2 linked regions of the Homo sapiens genome follow. The protein of the gene in region 1 purifies or fractionates together with the protein of each later gene. This does not show direct contact. Each region holds a gene or a part of one and is shown on either strand. Other genes may lie near its edges. The genes, in order: DELE1 and EIF2AK1.

What was found.
Region 2: the proteins of DELE1 (region 1) and EIF2AK1 purify together in Homo sapiens (affinity purification with mass spectrometry; 3 studies listed by BioGRID and IntAct, with this or other methods). This does not show direct contact.

What each region holds. Positions count from the first base shown.
Region 1 is NC_000005.10:141,919,298-141,926,978, forward strand, and holds the start of DELE1 (death ligand signal enhancer precursor), read left to right. Parts: upstream 1-4,573; 5' UTR 4,574-4,644; coding exon 4,645-4,675; intron 4,676-5,283; coding exon 5,284-5,398; intron 5,399-6,112; coding exon 6,113-6,230; intron 6,231-7,681.
Region 2 is NC_000007.14:6,042,042-6,049,315, reverse strand, and holds part of EIF2AK1 (eukaryotic translation initiation factor 2-alpha kinase 1), read left to right. Parts: intron 1-471; coding exon 472-509; intron 510-2,224; coding exon 2,225-2,324; intron 2,325-2,961; exon of another isoform or gene 2,962-3,030; intron 3,031-3,164; coding exon 3,165-3,245; intron 3,246-4,654; coding exon 4,655-4,754; intron 4,755-6,322; coding exon 6,323-6,383; intron 6,384-7,274. UniProt on the Homo sapiens protein: Metabolic-stress sensing protein kinase that phosphorylates the alpha subunit of eukaryotic translation initiation factor 2 (EIF2S1/eIF-2-alpha) in response to various stress conditions.

The sequences.
Region 1 (7,681 bases):
AGGGCTGAAGGTGAGGTCACTGGCCTAGAAGGCACAGGGTGAAAATGAGGGCTTGACCCCCACTAATACAGCAGCCAATAGCCTTTCTTGGATCCCTCTGGCCTGGTCACTCCCTTGCCAAAACCCTTCCTAGATGTCTCGTGCCTTCAGGACAGAGTCCAAATGTTTTACGGGCTTACAAGGCGTTATGACCTTGCGCTATTTACCTCTCCAGACTAAAGGCCTATCACCACCCCATCGCCATGACTCCATGCCTCCCTCCCGGCTCCAGCTACAGTGATCTTAAACTGTGCTTTCTTTGCCTTTCTGGAACTTTGTATCAGTCAGCTGTGTCCCCTGCCTGAACTGGGTTTCTTTTCCTCTTCTTCACCTGGTTAGTTTCCAGGCCTCATCATTCAGGTTAATTTAGCATCACTGCTTCCAGGAAGTCTTCCTGACTTCCATGCCTAGGTTATGGGCCTTCCCTGGGTGTTCCCATAGCACTCTGTACTTTCTTCACAACAGCACTTGCTTGTCTCCAAAGTCTACTTCCCAGTATTTGTGACCTTATGTTTTCCCCTCCCACACTGATTCTGGGCTGACCCTGTGAGTTGCTTTAACCAACAGAGTGCAGAAGTGATGCTATGCCAGTTCCTGCCAGCTTCCACTTGTGTACTTTTGGAAGCTCTGAGCCACTGTGTAAGAAGTTCAGCGACACAGCTGGAGAGGTCATGTGGCGCAGAGGGGACCTGAGACTACATGGAGAAAGAGGCCCAGCCTTTCCAATGCCCTACTTGAGTCTTCATATGACTGCCATCTGACTACAACCTCATGAGAGACCCCAAGTGAGACCAGCAGAATTGCCCAGCTGAGCCCAGTCAATTTGCAGAACTGTGAGAGATAATGATTGTTTTAAGCCACTCAATTTTGGGGTGTTTGTTATGCTGCAATAAGTAACTAAAACACCACTCTGTATTTTAATTGCTTACTGACTTTGTTTGCACTCCTAGGCTATTTTCTGTGAGGGCAAGGACCACATCCATGTTTTGTTTTGTTTTGTTTTAATTTTTCCTCAAGACAGAGTCTTGCTCTGTCGCCCAGGCTGGAGTGCAATGGTGCGATCTTAGCTTACTGCAACCTCTGCCTCCTGGGTTCAAGTGATTCTTCTGCCTCAGCCTCCCAAATGGCTGGGATTACAGATGCGCACCACCACGCCTAATTTTTTGTATTTTTTTTAGTAGAGATGGGGTTTCACCATGTTGGCCAGGCTGGTCTTGAACTCCTGGCCTCGTGAACCACCCACCTCGGCCTCCCAAAGAGCTGGGATTACAGGCGTGAGGCACTGCGCCCTGCCCACATCCATGTTTTAAAATTGTTATATACTTAGCATATCCTTTAGCACTAAATAAGCTGTCATATATTTGATTAATGCAAATTAAGAATGCCTACAAAAATGAAGGCAACAAGTATCTAGAATACTCACTGTAGTGACAGTACACAAAGTACACAATGGCATGTGTAGTCATCATGAAAGGTGATTAACTGGACAGCAGGCAATAGGTTCCCAGTGTCAGTTTACCTTTGTGGAGGATTGAGTCAACTTGAGGGACTGTGTAGAGGGACTGAGCCACAATCCAAAACCACAGAGTTTGGGGTCTGGCAGTTGAGGCAGCTGCCATTCAACCAACAGCACTCCCGTGAGCTGCACTCAACAGGTGATCTGCTGTGGGCTCCAGCCACCCTCGCCATCTACCCTCACACAAGTGGTCTGATGTTTCTGTTTATGGGGACAAGAGATGCCATAATGCCATTCTATACATGGGGGCAGATGTCCTAGTCTCTCCTTCAAAACTTTTCAACTAGCTTCAAACAGGGAGGGCCCTCAATGAATGTTTGTATCTGCAATGAATACATTTCCACTCAAATCAGTAAATCCCCTGGCTGGGGTCTGGTACCCTTGGCTGTAATAATCATTAGTACAAGATGTTCTGTCAACAGGGATTGTTTGGACATATTCTTTGGGCTGACAATTTATGTCAAGCCCTATGTGGGACACGGAATAGGGAAATGCTATTCCTGTCCTGAAAGGAGAGAACTGGGAAGGCTAGAGTTACACAAATGAGATAAATACCAAGACAGCATATAATTACTGCTAAACTGTGTAGTAAGAAATTAAGTGCTATAGGAATTGGGAAAAGTAGGGAGCAGGGAGGGCTCAAACAGTTGAGGAGTCTACACTGAAGAGCTGGGATTGGGCTGAACCTTGAGAAATGACACAAACTATGGATAGTCTGAAAGGAAGGAGGGTACAAAAGACGCAGGAGGAAGAACACAGCCAAACCAGCATACTTGTTTGTTACTTTATTTTCGGGACAGCAACACAAGGAATGTGAAAGGTTGCCGTCCCAAATCCCGAAGCAAGGCTATTTCTGAATAGTTGTCCAACATTCAAACTTCTGGGCCTTTATTTATTGTTTCCTCCGCTTGCAATGCCTTTCTTCCTTCTCCACCTGGCAAGCTCTTATTCACATTTAAAGGCCCCGCTCAAATGCAACTACTTTTCTGAAGCCTTCCAAGGGATCCCACAATCCATTGTTCATGCTTCTATGGGAACCTAACCTATTACACTTGCCTGCTTACCTCCCCTACTAATATAATTAATAGCAACTTACACTTACTGGGCTTTTACTATGTGCCAGGAACTATGCTAAACATTTTTATTTATTTATTTTTTATTTTTTGAAGGGTATTCCCAAAACACCAAGTTAAACATTTTTAACATATTATTTTATTTAAACCTCACAACAATTGCATGAGGTATTTTCCCTATTTTACGGATGAAGCTCTTGAGACTTAGTGTGGTTAAGGAACCTGCACAAGATAACATACCTACGAAGTAAGCAAGCTGTGATTCCAACCCAGATTTGTGGGACTCCAAAGCCCACTACTAATCCACTGGACCGTGTTCCTGGAGGCCACAAATGCTCTTTCCTCAGCTGTCTTCTCAGATCCTAGAACGGGCTGATATATGGCTCAAAAGTTCTTTAACGGCCAGGCACGGTGGCTCAAGCCTGTAATCCCAGCACTTTGGAAGGCCAAGGCAGGAGGATCACCTGAGGTCCAGGAGTTCGAGACCAACCTGGCCAACATGGTGAAACCCTGTCTCTACTAAAAATACAAAAATTAGCAGGATGTGGTAGCAGGCGCCTGTAATCTCAGCTACTTGGGAGGCTGAGGCAAGAGAATCGCTTGAACCTGGGAGGCAGAGGTTGCAGTGAGCCGAGATCACACCATTGCACTCCAGCCTGGGCGACAGAGAATCCGTCTCAAAAGAAAAAAAAAAGTTGTCTAACATATTAATACAACTTTCAAGCCACATGCCTCGGTCTAAAAGTAGGTGCCCCCAGTACACTTTTACCCCAGGTAGCAACTTCCACTCACCTTAAAGTCACATACCTGGAGGAAGGGGATAGGGAGGAAATCTAAACATCTTATACTTGAATGTAAGCTCCGTTATTTCACGGATTCAAATGTGGTGAAAGGAACTATTTTTTTTTCCTTTTTTTTTTGAGATGGAGTCTCACTCTGTCGCCCAGGCGCGATCTCGGCTCACTGCAACCTCCCGTCTCCCGTGTTCAAGCAATTCTCCTGCCTCAGCCTCCAGAGTAGCTAGGATTACAGGCGCCCACCACCACGCGCAACTGATTTTTGTATTTTTAGTAGAGACAGGGTTTCACCATGTTGGCCAGGCTGGTCTCAAACTCCTGACCTCAGGTGATCCGCCCGCCTCGGCCTCCCAGAGTGCTGGGATTACAGGCGTGAGCCACCGGGACCAGACGGAACTATTCTTTTCCACAAAAGAACAAACACATACATAACTTTTGCCACGTCTGAAGACGAGGGTTCTAATAGGGCGCGGGTGGTGTCTCAGGTATTTTGAAAGGAGCTACCCAAGAATCTCAGCTTGTCAGGCCAGTCATTCCATTTGACCCTATCTGGCGCGTATTGGGGCCCCGACAAGGTAAGGGGTTGGCATGAAGCTGCACAGTGAGATAAAGCTGGACCGGAGCTAGAACCCAGAATCAAAGCCTTGCCCTGTGCGGTTTCTCATCGCCTACGCAGTCGGGCCCTGGCCTGGCATCTCCAGGCAGGTGGCCTTGGACGGAAGCCCGGCCTACTGGCTTCATTTGTGGGACCCCGGGGGTCCTCTCCTCCGCCCATGGAGCCTGGTTACTCCCACTTCCTCAAGCCTAGGGCCTGGAGAAGCCTTTCCTGGTTCGCGGCCTCACGGTCTGCAAGGTCCTCTTACTTCCCTGAAGCCGCTCCAGCCCCACTTCCCGAAGGTCCCGCTTCCGGGTGGCTCGCTTCGCCACCTGCGGTCCCCTGCCTCGGCTTGGGAACGCCAAGGACATCCCCCACGGAAGCCTGGGCCCACATCCCCATGCCCTTGCCGCACGTCACCGCCCCGCTGGCCCCGAATACGCCTCCGCCCTGCACTTCCTCTCTGCAGCGCCGTCTTTCCGGCCGGGCTCCCTTCTAATTGGCCAGCTCAGAGCTTCCTCGGGTACTCGGCCACTCGGGGCATCGCGGCGGCCTTTCTAGCCGCTGTCCCAAGGGTTGGTCTCGCGCTTTCGGCTGCGAGCTCTCTGTGGTGCTGGCAGCGACATGTGGCGCCTCCCGGGACTCCTGGGCCGAGGTAAGGGACGTCCAAGCAACCAGCGTCACTCTGGGCCGCAAAGACCGAACTGGAGTGGGGGCGGGCCCGAGGAAACAGCCGAAGCGATCGTGGGCCGGGTTAGAGCCAAGGAAGGCGGGGCTTGAAAGAGGGCGGGGAAGTCAGGGGCTGCTGGAATTTGAGATGTGGATGGGCCTAGCTAGAAGAGGGTGGAGTCCAAGAAGTTGGTAGGACTGTTGGGAGGGGGAGGAGTCCAATGGCAGGAGATGGTGGACTGAATGAATGAAAGAGGATTAGGGGCCAATGGAGTAGGCATAGCCAGTGAAGAGAGGAGAGGTTTAGAGTCAAAGAGCCCCAAACATTAGTGAGAGTATATGTATGAACGTTTGGTCATCTTAGAACAGTGGTTGGCATCCACAGGAGACCAGCAGAATCACATGGGCGCTTTTAAAAAACGTGGATGCTCTACCCTGAGAAATCTTAGTTTATTGGTTCTGGGGTACTACCCTAGAATCTGTAGTAGATAAAAGATTCCCATGTGTATCCATGTTTAAGAACCTCTGCTGAGGCAGATGACAGTGATTCCTGGGTTCTTGTTGAGGTGCCTGAGTTTTGGTTGTTCTGTACAGCTCTTCCCCGTACACTGGGACCTAGCCTCTGGAGGGTGACTCCTAAGTCCACCAGCCCAGATGGGCCTCAGACTACCTCCTCCACTTTGCTGGTTCCTGTGCCTAACCTCGACAGGTAAGATACTGCCATTTTACCACTCATTTCCTCCCCTAGTCACCCTTTTTTTTTATTTTTTTTTTTTTGTTGTTTTTTGAGATGGAGTCTCATTCTGTCGCCCAGGCTGGAGTGCAGTGGGGCAATCTCAGCTCACTGCAACCTCCGCCTCCCAGGTTCAAGCAGTTCTCTGCCTCAGCCTCCCGAGTAGCTGGGATTACAGGCACCCGTCACCACACCCTGCTAATTTTTATTTTATTTTATTTTTTTTGAGACAGAGTCTCGCTCTGTCGCCCAGGCTGGAGTGCAGTGGCGCGATCTTGGCTCACTGAAACCTCCGCCTCCTGGGTTCAAGCGATTCTGCTGCCTCAGCCTCCCAAGTAGCTGGGATTTCAGGCATGCACCATCACGCCTGGCTAATTTTTTTTGTATTTTTAGTAGAGACGGGGTTTCACCATGTTAGCCAGGATGGTCTTGATCTCCTGATCTCATGATCTGCCCGCCTCAGCCTCCCAAAGTGCTGGGATTACAGTGTGAGCCACTGTACCCAGCCAATTTTTATATTTTTAGTAGAGATGGGGTTTCACCATCTTGACCAGGCTGGTCTTGAACTCCTGACCTCGTGATCCACCCACCTCAGCCTCCCAAATTGTTGGGATTACAGGTGTGAGCCACCGCACCCAGTCCCTGGTCTCCCTTTGCCCCTACTTGATAGCCTCTTATTTCATCATCTAGGTCAGGTCCCCATGGCCCAGGCACGAGCGGGGGTCCAAGGTCCCATGGATGGAAGGATGCCTTCCAATGGATGTCTTCCCGTGTCTCCCCGAACACCCTATGGGATGCCATATCTTGGGTAAGGCTTCCCCAGCCTGGTCCTTGACCTTCAGTGTAGATGAGAATGATCCTTCATGGGTATACAGCCGAACCTGGAACAAGGGCTAGGGAATCACTGTGTCCATTTAACAAGTAACCCATGGTATTGGAGCATATTCAAGGAGATATTGCCACTTTCCACACCCCCGCCATGTATGTTTTCCTCATTTAATTCAGTAAACATTTATGTAACACCTTGTCTGGGCCAGGCATTTTTGCTAGTCACTACGGACATAGCAGAGAACAAGATAGATACATTCTTGCCTTCATGGATCTTACAATAAATAATAATACATTGCATCTTTTTTTTATTATTCATTTTTTTTATTTTTAAATTATTATTTTTTTCTGAGACAGAGTCTTTCTCTGTCGCCCAGGCTGAAGTGCAGCGGCATGATCTTGGCTCACTGCAACCTCCGTCTCCCGGGTTCAAGCAATTCTCCTGCTTCAGCCTCCCAAGTAGCTGGGATTACAGGCACGTGCCACCACGCCTGGATAATTTTTGTGTTTTTAGTAGAGACGGGGTTTCACCATTTTGGCCAGGATGGTCTCGAACTCCTGATCTCGTGACCCACCCACCGCGGCCTCCCAAAGTGCTGGGATTACAGCTGTGAGCCACCGCGCCCGGCCTTATAGCATTATTTATTAATGTAAAGTATTATACATGCATTATCTTGTGTAATCCTTACAAAAATCTTACAAGGGAAATATCACCTTCATTTTACAGCTGAGGAATCTCAGGCTCTGAAATATTAGGTAACATGCGTAGGGTCTCATACCTGTTAAGTGGAGGAGCCAGATTTAACTCTGGAGTTCATGTTCTACTGCTTGGTTGCTGCATCAAATACAGAGCCTAGCCCGTAATAGTTGCTCAAAAATATTTGTTGAACCTGATCTATAAGGTCAGATTCTTACTAGTGAACACTAGGTCTCATAGGGCAGAGTCTTCGCTTTTCAGGCAATGTTCCAGGTGGAAGTTCTGCTTATAAGATCTTCTGAATGAAGTTGACACACACATCACTCTCATGTTTGTCACAGCTCATCCCTGCTGCTTTCGTGCTGTGTACTTTGGACAAATGACTTGACCTGTGTGACCCTTGGCTTTCTCATCTGTAAATTGGTGTCATCAGCAGAGCTGAGCCTGGGATGTCTCCATGACAGGGTTACCCCTCTATGGGGAGCTGTGGACTAAGGCCATATCATACCCTGAAGAGAGGAGCATTTTCCCATGTTGCCAAAGAAGATCTGAGCCCTAGGGCTGTCCCATAGTGAGAAGTAGGAAGTGGGCCTGGATTCCAGAAGTCCCAATGCCATCCCTGTGCTCTGTCACTACTGCTCATATGAAAGGGTCTGCACGCAAGCTGTCCTCAGTACCATGGATACTTGTCTCTGTTCTTCACAATGCTGGTGCCTTTTCTTCTGGCCTTAGCC
Region 2 (7,274 bases), on another chromosome or scaffold:
TGCCTTGGCCTCCCAAGTGCTGGGATTACAGGCGTGAGCCACCGCGCCCTACCTAATTTATGGTTTTTAGTAAGATGGGAGGTGGTACAGGATTTTGATTAGAGGAGTGACACAATCTGACTTACATTTTAGTGGGGTCACACTGGCTGCTGTGTTGCGAATGGACTGAGGGGGCACGGGCAGAAGCAGGGTGCCAGGTGCCACCATACACGCGAGAGAGGTGGGCAGGCAGGAGGGGTGGGGAGCTCCTGCATGGATTTTGAAGGTGACGTCAGTCTTGTCTGCTTGCTGGTCTGTTCTCAGCTTTGAAGTATTTTCAGTTGTAAACTCTTAAGTAATACTGAAAAAGCCAGTGGTTTTTAAAATATTGTTTATGCATTTGGGGTTGTTAATGTGATATTGAATTTTGATAGGTTCTTTATTCCATGCAAGTTTTCAAAATGCTTTTTAAAAACAATTTTTTAATTGTAGGATCCTTGTGAGGATATTTCTCGTATCCAGAAAATCAGGTATGTGTGAAAAACTTTCTTGATTATGCAGACTATTGAAAAGAAATCAAAATTAAGAAAATACTGATTTGAGGTTAAAACATAATATTGTTAGTATTATTTATGAACATTAAAAACTTTGTTCTCAGCAATTAAGTACTGCTCTGAGACTTGCTTTGCTTCTTATTCCCTCCTCTTTGATCCCCTGCCTCTCGCCACTGAGTGTGGATTCCATGGTCACACTGTTAATTCAGATTCCTGATACCCAGGCTCTGTTAGGGGGACCATTGAATTCTCGCTAGTTTAAATACTAGTTTAAAATCTAACTGGTCTGACCTAAATATTCATCAGCCCATGAATAGATAAGCATGTGGTCTATCCCTGCAATAAAGTGTTATTCAGCTATTAAAAGGAATGAAGTACGGATTCATGCTACAATATGGATGAATCTTGAAAACATCCTAAGTAAAAACAGCCAGTCATAAAAGGCCACATATTGTGTGATTTCATTTCTATGAAATATCCAGAGTAGGTGAATCCATAGAGACGTAAATAGTGGTTTTCAGGGAGTGGGGTAAGGGAAGGATGGGGAGTGAAAGCTAATGGATATAGGGTTTATTTTGGGGGTGATGAAAATATTCTGAAATTAGGTAGCAGTGATGGTTGCACAACTTTATGTACTAAAAACCACTGAATTGTACATTTGAGAGAGGTGAATTTGACAGTATGTGAATTATATCTTGATAAAGCACTCTACATTAAAATAAAAATCTAATTGGTCTACATCATTAAGAAATTTAAGAAGCTGCTTATGGTGGTGCATACCCAGTCCCAGCTACTTGGGAGGCTGAGGCAAGACGACTGCTTGAGCCCAGGAGTCCTGGGCTGTAGTGCACTATGCCAGTCTGGTGTCCACATTAAGTCTGGCATCAGTATGGTGACCTTGATCTCCCAGGAGCAAGGGACCACCAGGTTGCCTAAGGAGGAGTGAACTAGCCCAGGTTGGAAACAGAGCAGGTCAGTACTCTGGTGCTGCTCAGTAGCAGGATCACACCTGTGAATAGCCACTGCAATCTAGCCTGGGCAACACAGCAAGACCCTGTCTTAGAAGAAAAATAAATAAAAAAGAAATTTCAGTAATTTTTTTTTTTTTTTGAGACAGAGTCTTGCTCTGTCACCCAGGCTGGAGTGCAGTGGCATAATCTCGGCTCACTGCAATCTCTGCCTCCTGGGTTCAAGCAATTCTCCTGCATCAGCCTCCGGAGTAGCTGGGATTACAGGCACCCGCCACCACACCCGGCTAATTTTTGAATTATTACTAGAGACGGGGTTTTACCATGTTGGCCAGGCTGGTCTTGAACTCCTGACCTCATGATCTGCCCTCCTCGGCCTCCCAAAGTGCTGGGATTACAGGCGTGAGCCACCATGCCCAGCTGAAATTTCAGTAAATTTATTTCTGAGCTTAGCTAACCAACTGCTGGCTGTTAGTGATTCTTAGGATTTCTGCTGTACAACATCGGTAATAATTTCTACTTGGAATACCCGTTACTGGTAAAACACCTGATTTTGTTTTCTTCATAGGGATGAAAAATTTCATTTTAGCCCATCCTTTCCAAATCAGCACAGCTTAGTGATACATGAGGTTTGTGAGGTTAGTAATCCTGTGAGCATGAGGTATCCTAGAACATTTTGATTCTCTCATGTTTTAATATTGATTGTTTGTATTTAACTTTCAGATCAAGGGAAGTAGCCTTGGAAGCACAAACTTCACGTTACTTAAATGAATTTGAAGAACTTGCCATCTTAGGAAAAGGTGGATACGGAAGAGTATACAAGGTTGTCTTCCACGTACTTGTTTTGACCTACTACCCTAAATAATTGTGTTTTCAGATATTGTTTTCATTATTCTTTTATTTATTTATTTTTTTGAGATGGAGTCTCGCTCTGTCGCCAGGCTGGAGTGCGCGGCGCAATCTCAGCTCACTGCAACCTCTGACTCCCTGGTTCAAGCGATTCTTCTGCCTCAGCCTCCCGAGTAGCTGGGATTACAGGCATGTGCTACTACACCCAGCTAATTTTTGTATTTTTAATAGAGACGGGGTTTCACCGTGTTGGCCAGGATGGTCTTGATCTCCTGACCTCGTGATCCACCCACCTCGGCCTTCCAAAGTGCTGGCATTACAGGCATAAGCCACCGTGCTCGGCCTGTTTTCATTATTATTATATAATGTACTCAAAGGAAAATTCCAAGAAATCTTGTATATTTACTTTTCTTTAACATTTGTCATGTACAGGGAAGTGGGCAGTTTGTAATGTTTTTCTAACCGTGTTGATTGTTTACATGGATTTTGGAAACTTTGAATTTTTGACCTATAGTTAATTTTAATTAAAAAATGTGTTACCAAAAAAAGTTGTACTACTGTGTTTTGAGCTAACATACACCTTTTGCTAACATTCCCGTTCTTCAGCCTAGAGCTTCTTAGGAGCTAGACTTCCAACACTATCTGAAAAGCTCTTAGTCCGGCTGACTTCCCTGAACATAGTAAGGAGACATGTCTTTAGCTATATTTTACCTCTTTGGCTAGTTTGGATTGTCTAAGCTCAGATTAAAAGAACCTCTTTATTCAGTTAAAGTTTAATGACACAATATACTTTGTCTTTTTTTCTACTTTTCAGGTCAGGAATAAATTAGATGGTCAGTATTATGCAATAAAAAAAATCCTGATTAAGGGTGCAACTAAAACAGTTTGCATGAAGGTATGATTTTTAAAAATTACTTATTTTGAATAATTGTGTATTTAGTTCTTTTTGAAAGAGTTATACATGTATATGTGTATATTTGGCAAAAGTAGGCGGTGTGGATTTCCAGTTTACTAGGAATGGGGTTATAGTAAAGTACCAAAATTAAATTATTATTATTTTTTGTTTTGAGATGGAGTTTCACTCTTTTGGCCAGGTTGGAGTAAAGTGGCGTGATCTCGGCTCACTGCAGCCTCCGCCCCGCAGGGTTCAAGGATTCTCCTTCCTCCCAAGTAGCTGGGATTACAGGCATCTGCCACCATGCCTGGCTAATTTATATATATATATATATATAATTTTTAAAATATGTTAACTTCTTAAAATAAATGATCGATATATAATATAGCTAGTTATGAAAAAACAGGAGCCCAGTTCCAGGTCAGTCTTCTCCCTGACATGCTGTGTGGTTCTGGACGAGTTGTCCAGTCCTCTGAGCCACTTCTGTCACCTGCCCTGAAATAGTAGTGACGGTAGTGATTTTACTTACCTTGGAGGACTGGGGTAGGAATCAAAAGAGAGAATGGTGATAAGTGTGCCATAAAAAGTATAAAATGCCCTATAAATATGTTATTTAGTTGCTATAACAATTGCCATTTGTTTCTTAAAAATATTTCCATTATATTGGCCAGGTGCAGTGGCTCACGCCTGTAATCCCAGCACTTTGGGAGGCGAAGGCAGGCAGATCACTTGAGGCCAGGAGTGTGAGACCAGCCTGGCCAACATAGCACAACCCTGTCTCTACTAAAAACACAAAAATTAGCTGGGTGTGGTAGTGCATGCTTGTAATCCCAGCTGCTCGGGAGGCTGAGGCACAGGAATGACTTGAACCCAGCAAAGTGATTGCAGTGAGCCAAGATGGCATCACTTCACTCCAGCCTGGGCAACAGAGTGAGACTCTGTCTCAAAAAAAAAAAAAAAATTTCTATTATTTTAACATAGTGTAGATGCCTTGTACAGAGGAGTTTTCATTACAGATGGTCCTCCATCTTATGATGGGATTATGTCCTGATAAACCCATCATAAATTGAAAATATTGTAAATTGGAGATGCATTTTAATATGCATAACCTACCGAACATTATAGCTTACCCTGCCTACCTTAAATGTGCTTCGAACACTTACATTACTCAATAGTTGGACAGAATCATCTAGCACAAAGCATATTTTATAATAAAATACCATATATCTCATGCACCGCATACTGCAAGCTGGAGAAAAGATCAAAATTCAAAGTATGTCAAAAATTGTGATGTCTTCATACCATTGTAAGTCAGGGGCCATCTGTATTTTGCTCTGGAACAAGAAGTATTGCATAAACATTTAACAAGTTATCAGCAAAAGGCAGATCTACTTCCATTTCTTTTCTAGGTCCTACGGGAAGTGAAGGTGCTGGCAGGTCTTCAGCACCCCAATATTGTTGGCTATCACACCGCGTGGATAGAACATGTTCATGTGATTCAGCCACGAGGTAAGCCGTTTTTGATGGTATGGTAGTTGAAGCGTTGGCAAACTTTAGCCCGTGCACCAAATCTGGCCTGCCTTTGTTTTTGTACATACCACAAGCTGAGAATGGTTTTTACATATTTTTTTTTGAGACGGAGTCTCACTCTGTCGCCCAGGCTGCTCCGCCTCCTGGGTTCACACCATTCTTCTGCCTCAGCCTCCTGAGTAGCTGGGGCTACAGGTGCCCGCCACCACGGCCAGCTAACTTTTTTTTTTGGTATTTTTTAGTAGAGACAGGGTTTCACCGTGTTAGCCAGGATGGTCTCGATCTCCTGACCTCGTGATTCGCCCGCCTCGGCCTCCCAAAGTGCTGAGATTACAGGCATGAGCCACCGCGCCTGGTTGGTTTTTACATTTTTAAATAGTTAAACAAAATCAGAAGATTTTGTGAAAATTATGTGAAATTATTTTTTTCTTTTCTTTTTTTTGAGACAGAGTCTCGCTCTGTCACCCAGGCTGGAGTGTAGTGGCGCGATCTTTGCTCACTGCAACCTCTGCCTCCTGGGCTTAAGTGATTCTTCTGCCTCAGCCTCCCGAGTAGCTGGGATTACAGGTGTGTGCCGCCACGCCTGGCTAATTTTTGTATTTTTAGTACAGACAGGGTTTCACCATGTTGCCCAAGCTAGTCTTGAACTCCTGACCTCAAGTGATCCACCTGCCTCGGCCTCCCAGAGTGCTGGGACTATAGGCATGAGCCTCTGTGCCTGGCCCAAAATTTAAATATCAATAAATAAAATTTATTAGAACACAGGCTCTTCATTTATATATTGTCTATGGCTGCTTTTTAAATTTAAAGTTAGCTGGGGGCAGTGTGGCTCATGGCTGTAATCCCAACACTTTGGGAGGCCGAGGCAGGAGGATCACAAGGTCAGGAGTTCGAGACCAGCCTGGCCAATATGGTGAAACCCCATCTCTAATAAAAATACAAAAATGAGGTGGGCATGGTGGTGAGCACCTGTAGTCCCGGCTACTCGGGAGGCTGAGGCAGCAGAATCACTTGAACCCGGGAGGTGGAGGTTGCAGTGAGCCAAGATCGTGCCAATGCATTCCACCCTGGGCAACAGAGCGAGACTGCCTCAAAAAAAAAATTACATTAAATTTTGTTTTAAAAATAGAGATGAGGAATCTCACTATATTGTGCATGCTGTTCTTAAACACCTGAGCTCAAGTGATCCTCGAGCCTCGGCCTCCCAAAGAGTTGGGATTACAGGCATGAGCCACTGGGCCTATGGCTGCTTTTATACCATAACAGAATTGTTCAGTTACAGCAGAGTCCCAGAGGGCCCTAAAACCTAAAATATTTACTGTCAAGTCCTCTGTGCTGTTTGCTGACCCCTCGTATAGTTGCATGGCTTTGTTTTTACGGTTCCTAACACGTGCCATTTGAATAAACTTTTTGTATTTTGCCAGAAGGTCATGACATTTTTAGACTTGTAGTCTCATTTGACACTATTTGTATATTTTAACTCTGTCTTTGACTACAATTTGAAAAACTGGGCTGTTTGAAGATGATTGTTGTTTGTTTTCATTCAGCAGACAGAGCTGCCATTGAGTTGCCATCTCTGGAAGTGCTCTCCGACCAGGAAGAGGACAGGTATGTCCTTTTACATATTAGGACATTACCTCTTGTCACCTGCATTGGGCTTTTGTTCTTTTTTTTGGCGACAGAGTCTCGCTCTGTCACCCAGACTAGAGTGCAGTGGCACAATCTTGGCTCACTGCAACCTCCGCCTCCTGTGTTGCAGTGATTCTCCTGCCTCAGCTTCCCGAATAGCTGGGACTATAGGTGCCCGCCACCACACCCAGCTAGTTTTTTGTATTTTTAGTAGAGACGGGGTTTCACCGTGTTAGCCAGGGTGGTCTCGATCTCCTGGCCTCGTGATGTGCCCACCTCGGCCTCCCAAAGTGCTGGGATTACAGGCGTGAGCCACTGCACCTGGCCTGCACTGGGCTATCTTTGTCTTTTGCTACAAGGAGCTCAGGAGGAGTGTTTTAGACTTTGCTTATTTCCGTTACAAAATGTTAAATTATTTCTTCCTTTCAGATATTTCCTGTCGGTATTTTTTTTTTTTTTTTGAGATGGAGTCTCGCTCTGTCGCCCAGGTTGGAGTGCAGTGATGTGATCTCAGCTCACTGCAACCTCTGCCTCCCAGGTTTAAGCGATCCTCCTGACTTAGCCTCCCTAGAAGCTGGGATTATAGGCCTGCACCACCATGCCTGGCTAATTTTTGTATTTTTAGCAGAGACGGGGTTTTGCCATGTTGGCCAGGCTGGTCTCAAACTCCTGAACTCAGGTGATCTGCCTGCCTTGGCCTCCCAAAGTGCTGGGATTACAGTTGTGAGCCACTGCACCTGGCCTATTTTTTATTATTTTTGTTGAGACAGGATCTTGCTCTTTTGTCCAGGCTGGAGTGCAGTGGTATGATCACAGCTCATTGCAGCCTCCAACTCCTGGACTCAGGCAATCCTCCCACCTTAGCTGCCT